Homo sapiens: one gene and its partner. The protein of the gene in region 1 interacts with the protein of each later gene in a biochemical or structural test. Each region holds a gene or a part of one and is shown on either strand. Other genes may lie near its edges.

Region 1 (3,500 bases):
GCCCTTTTGCAATGAAAAGAGATGTCTTTTGTTCTAAAATGAAACTTTTATTGCATTTATTAAGTACTAACTGTATGTATGACTTGAGAGAGTTCCCCAAGCTCTTTTGAAATGGTAAGAGAAGTAAGAATTTCAACAACCTAACCAGGCACATTTACATGACAGAGATTAACTGATTGTAGCCAAAATAAAAATGCAAAGGCTATCCCTATAGTAAGTTCTAACTATTTGCAGGCTAACACCAGAGGGTTTCCTGCAGTATGAGTGGACTGTGGGTTAAATCATTCAACCTTTTAGGCCCAACCCAAAGCCTTTCCACCCTGGGAATCTTCCTTGAAAACTCCCACAGCTCACCAGAGTGATGCAGAAAAGCCCAGTCTGCAGTGGCTCCTGCTCCTGGGCCCAGTACCGCTCACACCTTTTCTGCAAAAGGTAAGGGAGAAAAGGCAGGGAGTGAGAAGAGGGAGTCAGCTTCAGAGCTAGCTCAATCATGCCACAAGACACCCCAGGTGCTCGTGGTGGAAGCACAGGCAGCTATACTTATAACCTATAACAGACGCCAGCCAACAGAGCCATCAGATTAAACACATGCAGACTCAATGGAGGTGCGCTGCTGACCATGCAGGGGAAATACAGTCCAGGATACCCTCCCACTGTAAGCAACTAGAAACTGGACAAAATACATGAGCCACTATTTTCAGACACTGGTTGGCAGGTGTTGCAGTACTGTGGTCACTGAACAGACCACTCCGGCTTATTGCATGGAAGTGTCACCAGGCTGTAAGACATGAGTCTAATGATCCCACTGAGTTGAGCCAGAGACCATGGCTCAAGGAGGCAAAAGCAGCTAGAATTTGCAGGGCAGAGTCCTGGAAGGAACAGAGGTATGCAAATAAAAACAAAACAATAACTTGCATAGAAGTCCCCTCCTTGATTCTTTGGTTGAATAATCTGAATATATACAACATGAAACCCCATGAGGCCAGGCAAGAATAACTTACCATGAAAGAATAGTAGGGATCTGTAGGATGAACATTTCCTTGAGCTCATGATGAGAAAGAATTCACATTCCCTCTAGCTAGAGTGTAGAGGCATTATCAACTATAAGGGGCATTTAGTAGGGAACCTAGAATGACCACACATTAGAAGTACGGCTAAATTAATTCTAGAACAAAGGCTACTTGATCAACCATCCAAAAGTTCCTGAAAAGGCAAAACACTCTAAAGAAAACAATCCAACACTTACCTGTGCAAAATTCAAAATATCAAGCATCCAATAAAATTTTGCTGGACATACAAAGAAGCAGGAAAGTGTGACCCATAACCAGGAGAAAAATTAGTCAATAGGAAAGGGCCCAGAAATAACAGTTCAGGAAAGAAGCAAAAATCTTAAAATGGCTATTACAAATACACTCAAAGATGAAAAGGAAAACATGAACATGATGCAGAGTGGAATGAAAGATACAAAAAATAACCTGAATGGAATTTATAAAGAGGAAAAATAAAATATATGAAATGAAAAATCCACTAATAGCAGGGTAGACACTAGAAGAAAGGATCAATAGACATGAAAACATAGCAATATAAATAATTCAAAATGAAATGAAAAAAATGAAAAAGAATCAGTTCTCTGTAGAAATATACCAGTCTAGTGTATGTGCACGTGGAGTCCAGAAGGAAAGGAGAAAGGGGGATAACAGAAACTTTATGTAAAGAAATAATAGGTGAAAATTTTCCCAAATTCGATGAAACTATGAACCCACAAATCCAAGAAAGTCAATGAACCAGAGGGAGAATAAACCTAAACCTAAAGAAAGTCACGCCAAGGCAGATCATGATCAAATTACTGAAAAAGAATGAAGAAGAGAAAAAAAAATTTTTTTTTGAGACCCTTGCTCTGTCACCCAGGCTTGGCGTGCAGTGGCTCAATCTCGGCTCACTGCAACCTGCAACTCCCAGGTTCAAGCGATTCTCCTGCCTCAGGCTCCTGAGTAGCTGGGATTACAGACACACACCACCATGTCCAACCTTTTTTTGTATTTTTAGTAGAGACAGGGTTTCACCAGGTTGGCCGGGCTGGTCTCGAACTCCTGACCTCAAGTGATACACCTACCTTGGCCTCCCAAAGTGCTGGGATTACAGGCATGAGCCACCACACCAGGCCCCAGAAGAGAAAATCTTAAAAGCATTATGCACAAAAGGACACATCACATACTGAGGAACAAAGTTAAGAATTATAGCAACATTTTGTCAGAAACGGCAAGTCAATGCTATGATATCCTAAAAATGCTGAAAACCTTTTCAGACAAATGAAAGCTGAGGGAATTCATCACAAACAAATCTGCATTATGAGAAATATTAGAGTAAGCTCTTCAGATGCTTACAGACAGTGGCTGCTCCAGCTATTTGAGAGGCTAAGGCAGGAGGATTGCTTGAGGCCACTTCAACACCAGCCTGAGCAACATAGCCTGTATCTTAAAAAAAAAAAAAAAAAAAAAAAAAAAATTAAAATTAGCTAGGTGTGTTGGCAACATAGCTAGCCTGTATCTAAAAAAAATCTTTTTTAGTTAGCTGAGTGCAGTGGCACACCTGTACTCCCAACTACTTGGCAGGCTGAGGTGGGAGGATTGCTTAAGCCCAGGAGTTTGAGGCTGCAGTGAGTGGTGACTGCACACTGCACTCCAGCCTGTATGACAGAGTGAGACCCTATCTCTTAAATAAATAGAATAAGTAAGCTCTGCATACAAAAGGAACGTGATACAAATGGAAATACAGATCTACACAAAATAACAGGGAGAAAAGTAAGTGGCTAAATGTAAAAGATATTTCATTTTAAACATCTTTAAAAGATAATCTAGTGAATTTTATCAAACAAAGAGGAATTAATACCAGCCTTTCACAAACTCTTGCAAAAAACTGAGAGGAACCATTTCCCAACATATTGTATGAGGCTAGTATTACCCTGGCACCAAAACCAAAGACATCACAAGAAAAGAAAACTACTAACCAATATCTCACAAACATAGACACAAAAATTCTCAATGAAGTACTAGCAAAGTATTAAACACCATGACTAAGTGGGATTAATTCCAGGAATGCAAGATTGGTTCAACATATGAAAGTCAATGTCATACACCATATTAGTAGAATACAAAACACACGATCATCTGAATAGATGCAAAGAACAAAATTTGACAAAACTCAACAGCGTTTCATAAAAAAGTTCATTAGAAACTCAGTGCCCAGGATTTTTATTGGGGCACCGTCTGCACAGAATGTAGGCACACTCTGCCTAGCCTGTACCAAAATGTCAGACTACCAGCAGGAGAACAGGTGTTCTGCATAAAGCATATTGTTTGTATTAACAGTTCAGGCATAGTGAGCCACTGTTATCAGAAACCTAGGTTTCTAGAGGCCACCCAAGAGTCAACCTTACAGGAAGGCCTTTCTAAGCATAAACATTTATGCTTGCCATGTTTAACTCTTCTGCACAGCAGGGG
Region 2 (3,500 bases), on another chromosome or scaffold:
ACCATCTTGGCCAGGCTGGTCTTGAACTCCTGACCTTGTGATCCACCCACCTCGGCCTCCCAAAGTGCTGGGATTACAGGCATGAGCCACCACGCCTGGCCCTGCTGGGTCTTTTTTAGACACTGAGAAATACAGCAGTGAACAAGAGAGACAAGCTTCTTGTTTTCATGGAACTTCTATTCTCATGGGAGGGGAAACAGACAATAAAGAAGAAACAGGGCCCGTTGCGGTGGCTCACGCCTACAATCCTAGCACTTCGGGAGGCCAAGGCGGCAGGCAGATTGCCTGAGCTCAAGAGACCAGCCTGGGCAACATGGCGAAACCCCACCTGTACTAAAATACAAAAAATTAGCCAGGCATGGTGGTACATGCCTATAATGCCAGCTACTCGGGAGGCTAAGCATCAGAATTGCTTGAACCCGGGAGGCAAAGGTTGCAGTGAGCCGAGATCGCACCACTGCACTCCAGCCTGGGCAACAGAGCGAAACTCCATCTCAAAAAAAAAAAAAAAAAAAACAACAACAACAACAACAGAAGATAATACGAGATTGTGTCAAGGCTATGAAGGAACAAACAGGGTGAGGGAATGGCACTTTACTCAGGGAGCTATCTTTTGTGTGTGTGTGTGAGATGGGGGTCTCACTCTGTCACCCAGGCTGGAGTGCAGTGGTACAATCTTGGCTCACTGCAACCTCTGCCTCCTGGTCTCAAGCGATTCTCCCACTCTGCCTCCCGAGTAGCTGGGACTACAGAAGTTCGCCACCACGCCCAGCTAGTTTATGTATTTTTTGGTAGAGACTTCACCATGTTGCCCAGGCTGGTCTTAAACTCCTGAGCTCAAGTGATCCACCCACCTTGGCCTCCCAAGGTGCTGGGATTACAGGTGAGCCACCACAAGGGCACTATCTTATATGCAGTCAGTGGTGTGTGGGGGCCAGCTCACATTGGCTTGGGAACAGCAAGTATACGCGTCTCTTCCCAACTCCAGCTATGCTATAAATCAGGGTCTACCCACTACTAGCACTGGTTGTTAAGCATTTTACAGCACACCAGAAGGAGGTCACTGAGGAGAAAGAAGCAAGACCAGAGATTCATGAGAAACCAAACAACTCTGAAAGACAAGGCCCTGTGTTTTAAAATGAGAGTTATTGTCATACATTCCAATGAATCAAAACAATACCAAAACAAAAAACCACACAAAGAACTATATTCAACCATATGTGATCACAATTTCCCTCATTACAGTGAGGGGAAGGGTCTGGTGGTGGTTTGGTTTGGCTTTTAAATTGTATCTCTTTTATTATCTCCACACTGCCACACATACACAAAAAGTAGAGGGATAGTTACAGTTCCTGGGTAATTTGAAAAACCACAAAATTCACCTGCAAAAATATGTAAGCATGACCTGTAATACACCACTTTGGGAAACTACAATCATACCATTTTAAACCTTTGGAGTCTGGGTGATTCATGGAAACAAAGGATTTCACGAGCACAAATAACCTGAAGAGGCTCACCCACTTATTTTTGGCATAGAGAAATGTAGGCTCCAAGAATGTGACTGGCAGAGCTTATTCTAGAACCCAGGTCACCTGTCTCATCTGATGTCATCTTCTCAATTTTGGTCTATACCCTAGTACAGTAGTTCTTAAAACTGAACCCTTGAATCCCTTAATAAGCCCATCAGAATCCCTTGAGGGTTTATTAAAACACCCCATGGTTGTTACCCCACCCCCCAACCCCAACCCCATCCCCCGCAAAGCTTCTGAATTGGTAGAACTAAGGTGGGGCCCAGGAATCTGGATTTCTAACCAGTTCCCAGGTTACTATACTAATGCCACTGGTCTGAGGACCTCACTTGGAGACCTACTGTCCCAGGAATTGGGAGCACAGGCTTTGGAATCAGACAGAGCTGGGTTGCAGCTCTACTGCCACTGTGGTATGACCCTTGGAAAAGTTACCCAAATTCTCTGAACCTCAGCTTCTAACATCTGAGTCCAATTGTAAGGACTGAAAAAGAGAATGCCCACGAAGCATCAGCTTAGCCAAGCACCTATTATATTCTAAGGCAAGATCTTAATACATACTAGCGACATCTTATATCCTGTATCAAAGTTTCCTTAATTACATTTTTCCGAAGCATATACTAGGACGGCTAAAATTCAAAAGACAAACAAAATCAAAGATGGCCAAAGATGTAGAGCAACTGAAACATTAATAACAGCTTTATTCGTAATAGTAAAAAATGGTAAATACTCCAAATGTCCATAAACAAGCAAAAGGACAAACTGGTATGTGTATACAATGGAATATTACTTAGCAATAAAAAAAGAACCAAATGAAGTACACATGCAACAAAACGAAATCTCCAAAATATTTTGTTGAGTAACAAAAGCCAAACACAAAAGAGTACATACTGCATTAGTTCATTTTTATGAAGTTGAAGACAAAATTATTCTATGGTAGATCTATGGTGCAGGGGGAGGGGGGAATTAACTGGACAGGAACATGAGAAAAATTTCTGGGGTGATGAAAATGTTCTCTATCTTCATTTGAGTGATTAACATGAGTGCATACATCGCTTAAAACTCATCAAATTATATATCTAAGATATGCATTTTACTATAGGTAAATGATACCTGAATACACATAATTATATATAACTTTGTAAAGGCATTTTATGACAAAGTACTGTCTTCCCCACTTAAAATGAACCAACTCCAACCTGACAAAGGACTGTCTTCTCCATTTAAAATGAACCAAGTCCAACCTGGCAGATCCATTGAGTTTGATTCCTGCACAATCCAGTCCTGTCACAGACAGTTTTGGTCCATGTATCTTTCCAGAGAACTGCCATGAAGTAGAAAAACAGAATTTTCTCCCACCATGTAGACAGTATCCAGAGTGATCTGTGTCCCTGGAAGTGGCTAACTTGGGATGCAAACAACACAAAAGTAGTATTTTTCTTTACCATATACCAAGTATGAGCCTGCTTGATATGACTTTAAAAGGCACAGTAATGAAGACACATTAAGAGCAATTCTGTCATACAATCTAAATCATATTCTCAACATGGAAGAGGGAGCAGAAAACTGGTGAAATGGTTTCTAGGGCCATCATTACTGGTAATGAAGACGTCAGAAGATCCAACTGTGCCTGTGTAATTATTACATGAAATAGTCACTTTCAGACTGCAATGAATTCCAGGCCATTCAGGTTTCCCAATCAGTATCATATTTCTATCCCATTACAAGTAGATTCACGTACATCCATCCATACATACATATACACACACACACAGAAACATACCCACACACTCGCCCCTGCTGTGAACAATCTGTGCACAAGGGGTGAAGAGAGCTAACACCTGGAGACACTACAGTTTCCTTTCAACTCAGAGGTGTCTGTTTCCAAACCCACTTGATTATCTCACCAAGCCTTCCTAAACTCCATGATGAGAGAGCCCTGGGACATCGCCTCCCAGAAATTTGGCAACTAGT

What was found. The genes of interacting proteins can lie anywhere in the genome.
Region 2: the proteins of PTPN18 (region 1) and MAGI1 interact in a test that uses a peptide from one of them, tested with the Homo sapiens proteins (one large-scale study listed by IntAct).

What each region holds. Positions count from the first base shown.
Region 1 is NC_000002.12:130,366,056-130,369,555, reverse strand, and holds part of PTPN18 (tyrosine-protein phosphatase non-receptor type 18), read right to left. Parts: intron 424-3,500; coding exon 355-423; intron 1-354. UniProt on the Homo sapiens protein: Differentially dephosphorylate autophosphorylated tyrosine kinases which are known to be overexpressed in tumor tissues.
Region 2 is NC_000003.12:66,032,419-66,035,918, forward strand, and holds part of MAGI1 (membrane-associated guanylate kinase, WW and PDZ domain-containing protein 1), read right to left. Parts: intron 1-3,500. UniProt on the Homo sapiens protein: Plays a role in coupling actin fibers to cell junctions in endothelial cells, via its interaction with AMOTL2 and CDH5. May regulate acid-induced ASIC3 currents by modulating its expression at the cell surface.